Regions from separate parts of the Homo sapiens genome. Here all the other regions are linked to region 3. Evidence: fine-mapped expression QTL. A gene starts in region 3. Each other region holds a variant in brackets. All regions are shown on one strand. Distances are between the middles of the regions.

Region 1 (5,333 bases), 950 kb before region 3:
GGGCTCTGGCAGGAGGATTGCTTGAGCCTGGGAGGTTGAGGCTACAGTGAGCTGTGCTCGCACCAGCCTGGGCGAAAAAGTGAGATCTTGTCTCAAAAAACAAACAAACAATAAAAAAAAACCTTTTCTGTTCAAATTATTGTGTAGCTTCTGTCTTCTAATCAGACTCTGAATATTTGTATCCTTACTACCAATTGTGGCTTTCAGCAAGTCAATATACCATCTGTAAAATAAAGATAAAATATTACTCCTTGGGGTGCAAAGGTTTTGCAGGCTGGTAAAAGCTATTCAAGGCCTGGCACCATGGTTCATGCCTGTAATCCAGCACTTTTGGAGACCGAGACAGGAGGACTGCTTAAGGCCAGAAGTTCAAGACCAGCCTGGGCAACAGAGCAAGACACTGTCTCTATAAAAAAAATAAGTTTAGGCCAGGCACAGTGGCTCACACCTGTAATCCCAGCACTCTGGGAAGCCGAGGCGGGTGGATCACCTGAGGTCGGGAGTTCAAGACCAGCCTGACCAACATGGAGAAACCCCGTCTCTACTAAAAATACAAAATTAGCCGGGCGTGGTGGTGCACGCCTGTAATCCCAGCTACTCGGGAGGCTGAGGCAGGAGAATTGCTTGAACCTGAGAGGCGGAGGTTGTGGTGAACCGAGATTGTGCCATTGCACTAGAGCGTGGGCAACAAGTGTGAAACTGTCTTAAAAAAATAATAATAATAATAATAAAATAAGTTTAGGCTAGACACAGTGGCTCACACCTGTAGTCGCAGCACTTTGGAAGGCCGAGGCAGCCACATCACTTGAGGTCAGGAGTTCGAGACTAGCCTGGCCAACATAGTGAAACGCTGTCTCTACTAAAAATACAAAAACTAGCCAGGCGTGGTGGCGGGCGCCTGTAATCCCAGCTTCTCAAGAGGCTGAGGCAGGAGAATCGCTTCAGCCCAGGAGGCAGACGTTGCAGTGAACCGAGATGGCGCCACTTCACTCTGGCTTGGGAAACAGAGGAAGACTCAAAAAAAAAAAAAAAAAAAAGTTTAAAAAAATGTTCAGGAAGAGAGCTCTCCCCCACCCCTTTCCACCCACCTTTTTCTTCTTGGATGCCGTCTCCCAGCATGTAGTCACTACAAGTGCTTGGACATAAGTAGAGTGCCTGCCGAAGCTCCAAGTTGAGAAACCACACTTGAAGAAATGTGTTGACATAACAAGTGGCTCCAAGGTTAGTCAGGCCCACAAATGAGTTCTACAAAAATACAAAATTCATAATTATAAAACCCATTTTCCTTTAAACAACCAATTTCTAAGCATTATTCTTAAATTTTCAGATTAAAAATGTGTAAGACCGTCACAACCAACATGGTATAGCCACCTTAAGTTTCTCTTGGCTGGAGGTGGGGCATAATTTTCATGAAAGCCCCATTTTGGGTTGACCACAGGAGTGAAAAAGACTTCGGACGGCATCACTGCTCATCTCTAGCATATCGTCTTCTCCAGCCACTTAAATCTAAAATTAGAACAGTGGATTCTAGAAAAGATCGGTTTTGAACAAGCGTATATAGGTTTTATGTTTTCTGTATTTCTAAACTGCCAGCATTCAGCAGAATGACAAAGTAAAACTTATGCAGAAAACTTCCTTTATATTCTAGAGATTTTAAAGATTGGCGGTGGTAGAGGGAACTGGCTGCAACTTTTTCCAAAGATAAGGTTGGGAATTCCTGACCTTACAAAGAATTATTATTTTATTAAAATATCTATATATAACAAACTTGGATATTTCGTGAATGCTAAGATTTATGTCTAGAAAATTTAATGTATATTTTTAAAAAGCAAAATTATATATAAAATACAAGCCCTAGAAAGCAAAGTGCTATCATCATGAGTTTGTTCCCTTGAATTACCATCTCCTTTAAAGAGGCGTTAAGATTTCAAAATAAAACATGCAATGTTAAAGCAAACATAGAATCAGCATTCAAACTAAAACTATTATTTAAAGGCTTACTGAATTACGCAGCTGCCTGTTTTAAAGCATATCATTAAGAAGTGTTCCAATTCAAGTGGCTTAGAGTCTTAAGTTCTACTGCTTATCTTAAAGCTGCACAGGTTACCTGAAATCAGTAGAGTTTTCTGATCACAGGCCCAAAACAAAAGCAAAAACAAAAACAAAAAACAGCATATAGCAATCGCTTAAAAAATGATGGTTTACCTTTTTTCTCCTCTCACAGTTGGGATCATCGATGTTATGAAAACTATTTTCATCTATTTCTCCTAACCAAATATGCTCACCAATACCAACCAAGCAATTCGGATTTCCTTTGCAGTTTCGTCTAAGGGGAAAAAAAAAACCTTTAATTTTTAAAAGACCATAGTTTCATGAGAGACAAACAAATTAAAACTAAAATGAGATACCACTTCTCATCTATAAATTAGCAAAACTGAGAAAGTATAAGACACTCAGTTTGTGAGGGTGTGGAGAAGAAAGCATGCATATACTGCTGGTAGAAATGCAGTCACTAACAAAACTACATAGACAACTACCTTTAGACCTAGCAATCTCATTTCTGAGGATTTACTGTTCCTTAGGCTATACCTCCAACAATGCAAAATCTCACTCATAAGGTTATTCATTACAGCACTGTCTGTTAATTGCAAAATATTGGAAGCCACCCAAATGCCCAAAAATAGACAATATGGTACATCTATATGGCAGAGTACTATGCAACTGTAAAACACACACACACACACACACACACACACACACACACACAGCATGAAAAAGATATCTATGAACAGATATAAGGTAATTTATAAATCCAGGACACATTATTAAGTAAAAAAAGCAAAATGCAAAGGAGTATCTCTAGTATACTGTTATGTGTAAGAAATATATAAGGAAAATATACATGTACATATTTCTGCTCATTTTGTACAAAAAGAAATACAGAAAGGAAAAACAAGAGACTAATGAAATTGGTTACCTACAGAGCATGAGTGGGAATAAGGTTAAAAGAAAATACACCTTTTCGGCCGGACACAGTGGCTCACACCTGCAATCCCAGCACTTTGGGAGGCTGAGGCAGGCGGATAACAAGGTCAGGAGTT[C/T]GAGACCAGCCTGAAACCCTGTCTCTACTAAAAATACAAAAATTAGCCGGGCGTGGCGGTGCGGGCCTGTAATCCCAGCTACTTGGGAGGTTGTGGCAGAAGAATCCCTTGAACCCAGGACACGGAGGTTGCAGGGAGCCGAGATTACACCACTGCACTCTGGCCTGGGCGACAGAGCAAGACTCTGTCTTGGAAAAAATGAATGAATGAATGAATGAATGAATGAATGAATGAAAAGGAAATGTACCTTTTCATATAATGAACAATTTGGGACCATGTGACTGTTTCTCACACTACTTCACGCATGCACACAAACAAAAATAAATCAACTGGCTAGGCGTGGTGGTTCACGCCTGTAATCCTAGCCCTTTGGGAGGCCAAGGCAGGAGGATCACTTGAGGTTAGGAGTTTTGAGACCAGCCTGGCCAACATGGTGAAACCCTGTCTCTACTAGAAATACAAAAATTAGCCAGGTGTGGTGGTACACGTTTGTAACTCCAGCTACAGGCTGAAGACTGGAGGCTGATGCAGGAGAATTGCTTGAACCCAGGAGGCGGAGGTTGCAGTGAGCCAAGATCGTGCCACTGCACTCCAGCCTGGGCAACAGAGAGAGACACGGTCTCAAAAAAAAAAAAAAAAAAAAAAAAGGAATCAACAAGGATGACAGGAACCCTAAATTCAAAACAGAGAAAACATATTTCAACTAAATAAAAGATCCAGACTGAAGGGAAGGCAGGAGTGGGGGAGGGAGAGGGAGGGGGTGTGACTGACCAAAGTAACTTAAACAGTTATCAAGCTCATTTACTAGTACCCTCTGGCTAAAGACAAAAGGAACAAACAGCCAACTCTAATTAGTAGGCTTCTTTTCCATAGAGACATGGGTTAATAATTCTGAAACACAGATCCTGACTTCTAAATATTACCCACTAAAAGAATCCCGTGCTCCTTGGAGAAATAACTGGCTGATTCCAAGGCCAGGGCAGTGAAATTAGAAAACGAACCTACATCTTACTGTGCCCTAAAATGATGTACTGAAAGATGGTGGAGACATGTCAAAAGAGCACAAGAGTTGGCTGGAAGGGGAGGTCCCACTGGTCAAATTTGGCAACAAAATTTAGCAACAAAATGAGTAATAGGATTATAACCTACTGAATAAAGTAAGAATCCATCATTTCATGGTGAGATGGATGGAAGAAAAATCTCTTCCCTTTAGAAGAAAACCAACTATCAAAGTGGAAGGAATGACAGAATTAAAAATCTCCATTTGGCATACATCAGATTCAGAAAGGAATGAGGCAAGGATCATCACGGATGCTAACGTAGGCAAGTTGGAGAAATAACAATATTTACAATGTCTCAAAGTATCTCAGAAAAAGTTAATTACAAAGGGAAAGATAATAACTTTCAGTGGAGAAACTTGACAGACACCACCTTAACCAAATGCTTAAATTTAACACACCCAGTAATGAATCTAATTGACACCACACACCTTCTGGTATAATGCACAACACAGAATCACTTCTGTGATGTTCTGGCCAAAGATGCATGGCCTTAATTGAATCATGAGGAAACATCAGACCAAACCAACTCAAGGGACTTTATACAAAATAAGTCAGTGTCATGAAATACAAAGAAAGATTCACTAACAGTTCCAGATTAAAGGAAACCAAAGAGACACAACTGAATGTAACATAAGCTTAGGTTTTCTTTTGCTATAAAGGAACATTACAGGACAAAGTTCTGCAGATTTCTGTAGGATACCCACTAAAGGATTACTGATAACAGTAAAAGACTGGAAATTTATATGGAAGTAACAAAATAAATTACAATATAACCAAACAACAAAAACTACTGCTGTCAAAAAATAAAAAGGTAGGCCGGGCACAGTGGCTCACGCCTGTAATCCCAGCATTTTGGGAGGCCCAGGTGGGCGGATCACAAAGTCAGGAGTTCGAGACCAGCCTGGCCAACATGGTAAAACCCCATCTCTACTAAAAATACAAAAATTCGCCAGGAGTGGTGGCGGGAGCCTGTAATCCCAGCTACCCAGGAGGCTGAGGCAGGAGAAATCACTTGAAACTGGAAGGCGGGAGGGTGCAGTGAGCCGAGATCGTGCCACTGCACTCCAGCCTGGGCAACAAGAACAAAACTCTATCTCAAAAAAAATAAAAATAAAAATAAATTTAAAAAAAGGTAGGGAAAGCTTTTAATGTTGTGATATATAACGATATC
Region 2 (5,000 bases), 24 kb after region 3:
CTCACTGCAACCTCTGCCTCCCCAGTTCAAGCGATTCTCCTGCCTCAGCCTCCTGAGTAGCTGGGATTACAGGTGCCTGCCACCACGCCTGGCTGATTTTTGTATTTTTAGTAGAGACGGGGTTTCACCGTGTTGGCCAGGCTGGTCTCAAACTTCTGACCTCAGGTGATTTGCCCACCTCAGCCTTCCAAAGTGCTGGGATTGCAGGCGTGAACCACTGTGGCTGGCCCAGGCTGCCTTTCTAACCAGCCTCTTTATTTTCAGATGGGGAAACCAAGACCCAAAGAGGATAAGGACCTGTGCAAAGTCACACAGTGATGAGTGATGATATGAATGATGAAAATATTAGCGTTATACAATTTTAACATTCATGTTAACAGTCATTTTAAAGGATTGATTTTACGGAGTAGTTTTGCACGGTGGAAATCAGCATATACCATGGCCTTATTATGTGCCATGTTGCCATGCTGAATCCACCACTGTGAGGCAGGATTATTATTATTTTTGTTTTAGAGGAAAACTGAATCTCTGAGAGGTTCAGTAAATTGCCCAAGGCCACATAGCCAGTAAGGGGCGGAAATGGGATTTGAACCCGCGATTCTCTAAGTCCAAAGCCCATGCTCATGACACGCTACTACATCAGGCTGGTATGATTTGGTGGGGACAGAGCTAGAAGTTGAACCCGGGACTGGATTCTTGGCCTGGTATGATTTGGTGGGGACAGAGCTAGAAGTTGAACCCGGGACTGGATTCTTGACCTGGTATGATTTGGTGGGGACGGAGCTAGAAGTTGAACCTGGGACTGGATTCTTGGCCTGGTGTGATTTGGTGGGGACAGAGCTAGAAGTTGAACCTGGGACTGGATTCTTGGCCTCCTGATCCCCAAAAACAAAACCCCAGCCCAGAGGCCGCAGGAGTGGCCCTGTCAGGAGCTTCTCAGTCAAGGACAGAGCTCTGCCCTGGGCCTCCCACCCAGGGCCAGCCTGGGCTTGGGCAGGGGGCTCATGTCTCTATCAGGCCTCACTGTGAGGGGGCTTTGGAGCAGCTGCCTCTGTGGCCCAGCCTGCATGCAGGCAGCTGGTCCTGGCTGCCTCTTTAGCAGGAGCAGGATAAATCTTACCCCCCGGCACAGCCCATGCACAGCCCAGTGTGGTTCACAGCATCCTTTCCCCTCCACAGTCTCACCTGAGCTTCACAACATCCTTGTGAGACAGTTAGGGTAGGGCTCCCCAGTCTTCATGCAGAGAAACCAAAGCCCAGAGATATATACACTCAATAAAGTACCACCAGAATGTCAATATTCTTTTTTTTTTTTTTTTTGAGACTGAGTTTCGCTCTATTGCCCAAGCTGAAGTGCAGTGGCGCAATCTCTGCTCACTGCAACCTCTGCCTCCTGGGTTCAAGCGATTCTTGTGCCTCAGCCTCCCGAATAGCTGGGATTACAGGTGTGCACCACTGCGCCCGACTAATTTTTGTATTTTTAGTAGAGATGGGGTTTCACCATGTTGGCCAGGCTGGTCTCTAACTCCTGACCTCAGGCATCTGCCTGCCTCAGCCTCCCAAAGCACTGGGATTTACAGGCATGAGCTACCACTCCCGGCCTGAATGTCAGTATTATTTTGCTGTGGTTCTTAATTTCTTTGGGGTCCTGAAGATCCTTGAGAAGCTGCCACAGGCTATGAACTGCCCCCTCCTAGAAAGTTGGAGACACACAGATACTTTTATGAAAAAATTCAGGGGACTTACAGATTACAAGCCTCTGTTGTGTTGCTCCATGGTACTGATGATAATGAATACAACTTTGTTTTATTGAGCCTCTGCTTTGTGCTGGGCAGGGTGTTTGATGGTTTACATACATTATCTCAGAACACCCCTGCAGGGTAGGAGACTGAGGCTCAAGGGAGGGTGACACTGACTAAGGCTGCACAGCAGGGCTATGAACCTGCTCTACCGACTCCTGTGGCCTGTGGGGCATGGTGTGGGAGCATCTTCCTGAGGCTGCTGTTAAGAACAAGGACCTTTGCTGGGTACGGTGGCTCACTCCTATAATCCCAGCACACTTTGGGAGGGTGAGGCAGGAGGGTGAGGCAGGAGGATTGCTTGAGGCCAGGAGTTCGAGACCAGCTTGGGCAACACAGTGTGACCCCATCTCTACTAAATTTTTTTTTAATTAGTCAGGCATGGTGGCATGTGCCTATAGTCCCAGCTACTTGGGAGGCTGAGGTGGGAGGATCGCTTGAGCCCAGGAGGTCAAGGCTGTAGTGAGTCATGGTCATGCCACTGCACTGCAGCCTAAACAACAGAGTGAGACCCGGTATCAAAAAAAAAAAAAGAAGAAGAAGAAG[A/C]AGCAGAAGTAGAACCAGGGCCTCTAAGGAAGTTTACAGTCCATACTTTCTGCCTTTGGAAAAGACTGCTGGCTTACCCCAGGCCTGAGAGCAGGAACAGCTACTGAGGACAGGGTTTCTAGCAACCTCTGAACTCCCAGCAGGGAGCCTCCTTCTCCCACTTCCCAGGGGTCTGATTTGAGGGCCCTGGGTAGAGCCTGTCTCAGCTCTACATGATGGGAAAGTCTGCAATTCAAGCTTGACTCATTTGGCTTAACTCATGGGAATTTGCCTTCCTTGAAATCCTCTTCCCACCCTGGGACAGCCTAATGATTCCTATAGGGCACTTGGGACGCCCTTGGCAGTGAGTCGGCCCAGAGAGCAGGACTGAGGGAGAGGGCTGGGAGGTCAGTAGGGTCACTAGACTTAGGGCAGAGCCCCTGCCTGTGCACCCCTCAGGACCGGAGCAGCCTAAGGTATCTTGTACAGTGGATAAGAGTGTGGGCTCTGAGGGACCTGGGTTCAAATCCTGGCTTACACCTACACGCTCTGTGACTTTCGATAGGCTCTTTTCCCTCTCTGAGCCTCAGTTCCCCATTAGTAAAATGAGGATGATAAATAGCACTAAGAGACATGTGGCCCTGTCCCTGGCCCAAAGGTAGTGCTCAATAAAGATGATCGTAGTGGTCATCGTTGTTGCTGTCATAAGCAGAGTCGGGGGGCTGTGGAAGAGAGCTCATCGTACACACGGGGGTCTACAGGAGGCTGCTCAGGAGACCTCCCTTTCCTCTTTGGCAAGACTGTACCTGAAAGGGGATTGGGCGAGGAGTGATAAGGCTGGTATGGGGGAACGTTTGGGGACAAGGCGGCCCCTCTTGCCTGGTTGGTGTGGGGAATGAGGCCTGGTGCTGGGCCCAGAGACGTAAAAGCCTCTCCCCTTCAACTTTCCTCCCAAATAATTCTGGAGGCTGGACAAAGAGTTCCATGGGGCCCCCCTTCCCAATGCATGAGCCGAGGCTCTGTTTAGCAGCCCCCACCCCACAGACCCGCCTCAGTCACTGTGTTGGCCAAAGCATGGTTCCCTGGGGGTGGGAAGGAGCCTGGGAGCCTCGGTGGGGCCTGCAGGCCGCGGTCTGGTTCCCAGAGGCCCTGGAGGGGGCCCCTTCACAGCTTCAGCACGAGGCCCTTTGAGGGTGGGGGCAGCCTCCGCAGCGCGGCATGTTTGCGCCGCTGACACTCTGGCAGGGTCACTGTGGATAAAGGCGCTGCCCAGACCCCGGGCCCAGCCTGCAATGGGGCTTTCTTGTCAGAGAGGAGCCTTTTTTTCCCAGCGCACTGTGGGGCGGCCGCAGGGGGTCACCCTGCCTAGGAGGATAATGGAGCTTTGGGCCAATGGAGACACAGGACTCAGCCGGCCCCCTCCCTGTCAGACCTGGGGAGGAGGGGAGACTGGGGGAGACCGATTGGCTCGGATCAGCCGCCACCTTGGCCATGGCTCTCTGGGTGGAGTCAGAAGGGAAGACACAGTGGAGAACCTGGGACTCCCCCAGGCCTCCAGGTGTCTGCGAATCCAGCCATCGGCGTGACGAGGAATCTTGGGCAAGTCATCCAGTGCTTCCGTTTCTAATCTGGCTGCCTTGTGGTTCTCAGGAGAGACCACCAGGGCCAGAGCTAGCACGGCCCTTTTTAGCTGTGCCTCCCTCTCACCCTGGCCATTCAGCTACTGCCTGCCTTTCTGTTCCTACAGCTACCACCTGACCTCAAGTCTACCCCCTGCCCCACCTGGACCATCTCAGTGACTTCTGAACCCCACAAAGCATCACCACTGAGTCTTCTAAACTGCAGCTGAGACCACATTACCCTCCTGCTCAGACCTTGGGCTCCTTATCTAAAAAAATCAAGGTCAAACAGCTGCTCGTTGACCTGGCCCCTGAGGCCTTCTCTGCCTGTCCTTGTCATCCCACAAACTCTAGGTGGATGTCATTCTCATCCATAAACTATAGGTTTCATACATACATGTTATAAACTCCCATGCCCCCAGATCTTTGTTCAGGCCCCAGCTGCTGCCTAGAATGAATGCCCTTCTTGCTTCTGCCTAGTGAACTCCTACTCATCCTTCAAGGCCCAACTCAAATGTCCCCTCCTTGGTATATCCTTCTTTGTACTTACCCTCAGCTCTTGATTAACAATTCTTATAACACCAAGGTATGGCTAATTTTGTCTACATCACCCTCCCCCATTAAACTGGAGTGTAGAGACTTTCTTGTCTTATTCATCGTTGGGCCTCCAGTGCCTAGCACAGAGTCTGTTACCAACAGGCTCTTGGGTTGATGTTTTATGAATGAGAGAATGAATGAATACATTGTCTGCCCATGAAAATAACTTCCCCCTCTATCCTAGAGGCTTTTACAACTCAGCATGACACTCCCACAAGACCTTGGAAGTAGGAGGAAATTATCATGATGCACAGGCTGTTCAGATGCCTCTGAAACTAGGTAGAACCTGGAATGAGACTGGATCTGGGTCTCAGGCCAGAACAAGGCAGCTCTTACATCAACCTAGCCTCGCAGAGGTCTTGGAGTTCATGCTCTACCTTGAGGCAAGACCTGGTCAAACCATTTAAAGATAAAAAAAATACTAACTTATCGCAGAGTTGAGAATTCTCCACTTAGGGGC
Region 3 (5,315 bases):
TCTGTGAAATAGCCTGTGGGAAGAGCCCTGAGCTCTGTGCTTCTGTGAAAGGTACAAGGAGGTCAGCACTGGGGTCGGACGGACATGGGGTTGAATCCTAGCCCAATTTGCCATGTGACTTTGGACAAATTACTTATCTGGTCCTCAGTTTCATCATGTGAAAAGATCAGCACCTGGTGCACAGAGTAGGAAAGATTAAGGGGGACAAGAAATAAACAAAGCCCAGCCTAGTGCCTGGTACCATGTCCTCAATAAAGCAGAGTCACTGGTCTTCCTATTTTGAGACAAAAAGGAAGTAACCACTGGCCCTGGGTAGGTGGAGTCAAGGGTCCCAGGAAATAGAAACAAAGCAAAAAAGCTGAATCTGCACAGTACATAATAGGTGCTCAATAATGACTTCTTGAATTTGGAAGTGTCTAGCACCTGGATGCACTGGAGGGGGCCAGAGCTTAGAGCTGCTCTGTCCAGGAGAGGGAGGATTGCCTCAAGATGGGCCAAGCTTGGGGTCCCTCAAACCCTGGGTCTCCTGGAAGGTCTGACAGGCAAGAACTGAAAATAAAGGCTAGCCCCACCCCAGTGGATCTTGACCCTGGTGAGGGGTCTGTAGACTTAAAAGGGGGAATCTTCGTTTCTCCTCTCTCCCTGCTCACTCAAATAGGAACGGTAGTGGCTCTGCCAGCCCCACCCCACTGGCTCTTGACCCTGGTGAGGGGTCTGTAGGCTTAATAGGGGGAAATCTCCTGTTTCTCTTCTCTCCCTGCTCACTCCTGTTCTGTCTCCCTCCCAGGCTGCCTCCTCCTGGTGGCCTTCCAGGATGACACCCATTTCAACTGGACTCTTGGAGCTTCAAGAGACGACCCAACTTTCCAAACCTTAGATGGATTCCCAAAGCCTGTGGTACCCCATTTTCTTGGTATGGACTGAAGGGGAGGGATTGCTGGGACATTTTGATAGTATGTGGGACAAAGGGACACAGGAGATGTGGGTAGCATAGACTTAAACTGCCTTCGACTTAAACCACCTGCTCCTGCACTGGGCTCCTCCACTCACTCCACAGAGTTCCGAGCTCCTGATGAAGTCTCCTCAGTCAGGAGTGGGCTCCCAACTGCCAGGGGTTCAGCCTGGGTGATTGCCGCAGGCCCCCTGCAGCCGCCCACCATCCAGACTTCAGTAAAGTCTGTTAATGATGATGGTGATGAAGGCTGTCAGAGCAGGGCAGGGCCCACAGGGTTGGGGCTAGGGTTGTGTTCTCCCTGAAGGGACGGCCATGCACAAAACCACGGCTGCACAGACAGGTCCATTCCACAGCGTGGGGGTGGCTGGGGCTTTCCCCAGATTCACCCATGGACTTCCTTCACCCCATCCCCAAACTGCACTGGGAGCAAGATCAACAGAGAAGGAGAAATCTAATACAGACATAGACGAGTCTGCAGTGAGGGGCTCGCGGGCCAGCTCAGAACAACGGGGCAGGGAGGGGAGGCCTGGGGTCTGCCTGCAAGGGCCCAGCCCACCAGTGCCGAGTGACCACCCTCCCCCCAGCCCCACCCCAGGCCCTCGGGTAGCGCCAAGGCCCAGTCTCCCACTCGGAGGCCCCGGCCCAGCCCCGGTGCCTGGGAAAGCCGCCTGTTTTGTTCCCAGATGCCACCCCCCCACACACACCCTTTTTTTTTTTTTTCCATTCATTGCAGTTCGGTCCCTTTCGAAGCCGCAGGGACCCGGGTGGCAGGGCTGAGGCGAGGGGGTGGGACTCCCTGCCCTGACAGGTAGTGCCGGCCCCCGCTTTGGGAAGCCCCTTCCCCCGCCCTCCCCTCCGTCCGCTCTCCCTGCCCCTGTCAGCCGCGCCAGACGCTCTCCGGCTTTGCAGCATTCAATAAAAATTGAGAAACATTTGGGCTGAAATCGCTGCTTTATCTGGAGGAGCCACAGCGCCGGGAGAGACCACTGCTGCGCGGGGGGAGCCCGGGGTCTCAGTGGCCCGGGCACGCGGGGTCGCCGCGCTCCAGCGCCCGCGCTGCCCCCGGGTGACCCTACGGGCGCGGTGTGGGGACCCGGGCTCGCGGCGGCGCGCGGCCGCCGGGGGCCGGGACGCGCGCGGGGGGCGGTGGCCTGGCGAGGCTCCCCCCGCGCCCGCGGCTCAGGTGGGCCGTGCCCAGCGCTGGCGGAGCCCGGGTCCCCGTTCTGCCCGGGCTGGATGGCTCATTCTGCTGGCTGCGCGGTGGCGGCGGCTGTGTGTGCGCCGCGCCTTGCCGCCCCCCCTGGCCCCCCGAGCCCGGGGCGCGCGCTCCCGCCCGGGCCGTCCGGGCCCCGCGGCGCCGCGGCCCGAGGCCCCGGGAAGCGCAGCCATGGCTCTGCGGAGGCTGGGGGCCGCGCTGCTGCTGCTGCCGCTGCTCGCCGCCGTGGAAGGTGAGCGAGCGGGCGGGCGGGCGGGCGATGGGGGCGGGGAGCGGCCGGGCACGGGCGGCCGCCGGCGCCCACCTCCGCTCCGCGGCCCGCAAAGTTTGCCCGGGGGCCGGCGCCGGGCGCAGGTGGCCGCGGGGAGGTGTGTCCGGCCGCGCCGGGAGGAGCGGGCCCCGCGGGCGCCCGGGGAGCGGCGGGCGCTGATTGACTGTGCCAGGAGGAGGCGAAGGGACCATCTTGCCGAGGCTTTGTAGCCAGCCCGGCGAGCGCCGCCCAGGGCTGGGGGCTGCCCACGCGCGCTCGCCGCCCCCGGCTCGGGCAGCCGCCTCGCGCCGGCCTGGTCTTGCTCCGCACAGGGTGGAGGGGCGCGGGCCCGGCCGTGGCGGGGGGCGGGGGGGGCGCCGGCGCTCGGTCGGGGCTGGAAAGTTTGGCAGGGAGCAGAGGGAGGGAGGCACCGCGGCCGGCCGGGGTGGGGGCTCCCGGCCCGCGCCCCCGAGATGGGGCCCGGCGCCCCGGAGAGCAGGGACTGGCAGAGTGGAAGGGAGCGCGCCAGCCCCCGCGTCGGTGCCTGCCCATCGCCCGCGGCGTACAATGGGGTCCCCTCCCCGAGAGGACTGCGCGGGGGATGGGTCTGTGGGCATCTCTCCGCCGCGCAAGGTCTCCGGGCACCCCCGCCGGCCACCGCCCCGCGGCCGCGGCGCTCAGCGTGGCGGCTGGAGCCCCGGGAACTCTCCAGCTGCCGCCGGGGCCGGACCAGATGCTCTTGCCATGTGTTGGCCTTGGCCAGGGTCGCGGGCCCTCTCCCCGTGGCCTCGTGTATTGGTACCACTCGACCCCCAGGGGGGCAAGGGTAGTTGCTAGGTCTCCCGAGCCAGCTTGCTCTGGAGGGAAAGTTAGTGCGGTCTGGGTGTGTCCACCAGGAATGGCCGAGCTTGCAGGGCAAGAAGCGAACGTGAATAATGGTTCTCACGTGTACTGCACTTTACAGTTTTCAAACCACTTTACAGTTTATGAAGTACTTCGCACTATACGCAGCTCTCTGTGGTTTACAACGTGCTGCACAGTTGACAAGGTACTTTAAGCTTTACAAAGTGCTTTCCCGCCCACCAGCGTGTTGGATCCCTCAAAATACACCTTCCGGGGAAGACAGGTAGGTATGATTCCTACTTCTCTTGAACAGATAGGGAAACCGAGGTTCTGAAAAGTCCGATGTCTCACCCAGGGCCGTTGGGTGACAAAAATAGAACCCAGGTCTGTGGTCTTTCTTTGAAACCAGCACTCACTTAGCTGGGTTTTGTTGCCCCTAAACTGCGTGAGCCCTTCCAGGGTTCTGCTCCCTTGGGCTTAGGGATGATGTCTGTGTGCACCTCTCAGGCCACTTTAGGGTTGTGGGGCGCCCCTTCCCTTCTTGCAGCCTAAGAAAAAACGCATATCAGACCAGACGTGGGGGCTGCGGCCTCTGGGAAAGGCGTCGTGGGGGACCCTGTGCTACAACTTCAGTTTCTCTTTCGGTAATGAGCACTTTAGTGACCGCAGTCAGGGGGTGGGGGGTGTCCCTGGATGGCAGCCACAGTTTCTGGCACTGAGGCAGCTGTCCTTCGGCTCCTGGGGGATTTGGCGGCTGACTGCGGTTTCCCGGAGTGGGGCCACTGGGGCACCTAGGGTGCCACGGGCCCTGGGTGTGGAGGGCAGCCCTGGGGCCTGGCTGCTGGCGGGAGCTCTGTGGAATATGGCTGAGGTACCACTTATTAACTCTGGCTTTGGGGAAATGACTCATGCGTTGGCCCGCTATACATTGGGATGTTTACAGTATTATGGGGAGCTTGGCATAAATATTGCTATTTAGGTTGCAGTCAGCGGTGCTGGAGGGGAAGAAAATTGGCCCCTCTCTCGTTGGAAGAGGCCTGGGTGTGTTTTTAATTACTCTGGGGTAGATGGAAGGGCCACATCTGTCCAGCCATCGCCCTGGCAGAGGCTGGTTGGAATCTGGTGGGCTGTGGCCAGCCTGGACCCTGGCCCTGGACACAGGGCTGGTGGGCGCTGACGTCACAGGAGGGTATGGCTACTTGGACTGCCACTTGGGGGCAGGGTGGGGAAGGGAAGCCACAGCAGGGTGGGAGGAGGGCTGCAGCAGGCACCCCAATGCTTGCCTCAGGCTCTTGTTCCGTTTGCCCCCTGGACACTAGGAAGTTAGTCCATCAGTGGTTAATAAGGAGCTGGCCGAATGGATGGGGAGATGGTGTGAGGTGGAGGTCAGAGGGCCTGCTTCTCATTTACTATGGGACCCTGGGCCAGGTCCCTTCCCTGTGGGGGCCTCAGTTTCTCTGGGTGTAAAATGGCCTGGCTAAATATCTTGTAGAGTCCATCGTCTACGCCCTACTTCCCCTCTTTGAGCCTCGTTTTCCTCCCCCGTCTAGTGAGAGTGATGACAGCGCCTGTCCTGCCTGTCTCCTGGGGTGTTTGTGAGGATCAGACCAGATGATGGGTGGGAGAAGTCCCCCTTCAAAGCCAGGGATGGACGGTGCTGCCTGTGCACATTTGGGGGGCGGTGCTGCCTGTGCACATTTGGGAGACACCAGGGTCCTCCTGAGGGTGACACAGTCTGTGGAGACAGGACTGGGCCGTGGAGCAGTAGGAGGGTGGCCCCTCTGGCTCCCAGAACCCAGAGCCACATGGCTACCACTTCCTTCCCTTCCTCCTTCCTTGTCTCCTCAGCCCGTAAAGGGCTGTCCTGCCGGTTAAGTCCCCAGGAAATCCCCAGCTCCAGCCTTCGGAATGGGGGAGAGGAGAGTGTGTGTGTATACGGGGGGTTTCTAGGTTAGGACGGTAAGCTTAGCATCTCCCCCAAACTGTGAGACCGCCCCCCGACCAAGTGAAAGAAAGCATGGAGCATGTGAAGTGGCGGCGAGCAGGATGGA

Which allele goes with the higher level. Alleles are on the strand shown, and positions count from the first base shown. SD is a standard deviation of normalised expression in the study named. Not every link is listed here.
For the expression in monocytes of the gene that starts at base 2,199 in region 3, allele A in region 2 goes with a higher level than allele C (large effect, 1.2 SD a copy in Schmiedel 2018).

The links. PIP is the estimated chance that this variant, and not a neighbour inherited with it, causes the effect. A credible set is the group of variants that fine-mapping cannot tell apart.
Region 1: its variant is the best candidate, but not a certain one, in a credible set for the expression of EPHB2 in monocytes after interferon gamma (Fairfax 2014, PIP 0.83).
Region 2: its variant is the best candidate, but not a certain one, in a credible set for the expression of EPHB2 in monocytes (Schmiedel 2018, PIP 0.82).

The regions. Positions count from the first base shown.
Region 1 is chr1:21,755,458-21,760,790 of GRCh38, forward strand. USP48 (ubiquitin specific peptidase 48) reads right to left here. Exons shown (of 27, transcript NM_032236.8): 2 at 2,206-2,326; 3 at 1,089-1,245. Among named protein-coding and RNA genes, the nearest start is that of USP48, 25 kb to the right of the region's middle. The variant C/T (reference allele first, on the strand shown) is at 3,102.
Region 2 is chr1:22,733,120-22,738,119 of GRCh38, forward strand. All of the region lies in intron 1 of EPHB2 (EPH receptor B2), which reads left to right. Among named protein-coding and RNA genes, the nearest start is that of MIR4684, 16 kb to the left of the region's middle. RefSeq lists an enhancer at 3,610-4,171. The variant A/C (reference allele first, on the strand shown) is at 2,346.
Region 3 is chr1:22,708,641-22,713,955 of GRCh38, forward strand. EPHB2 (EPH receptor B2) reads left to right here and starts at 2,199. Exons shown (of 16, transcript NM_017449.5): 1 at 2,199-2,403. The coding sequence starts at 2,343. RefSeq lists a silencer at 886-1,171 and an enhancer at 3,393-3,492.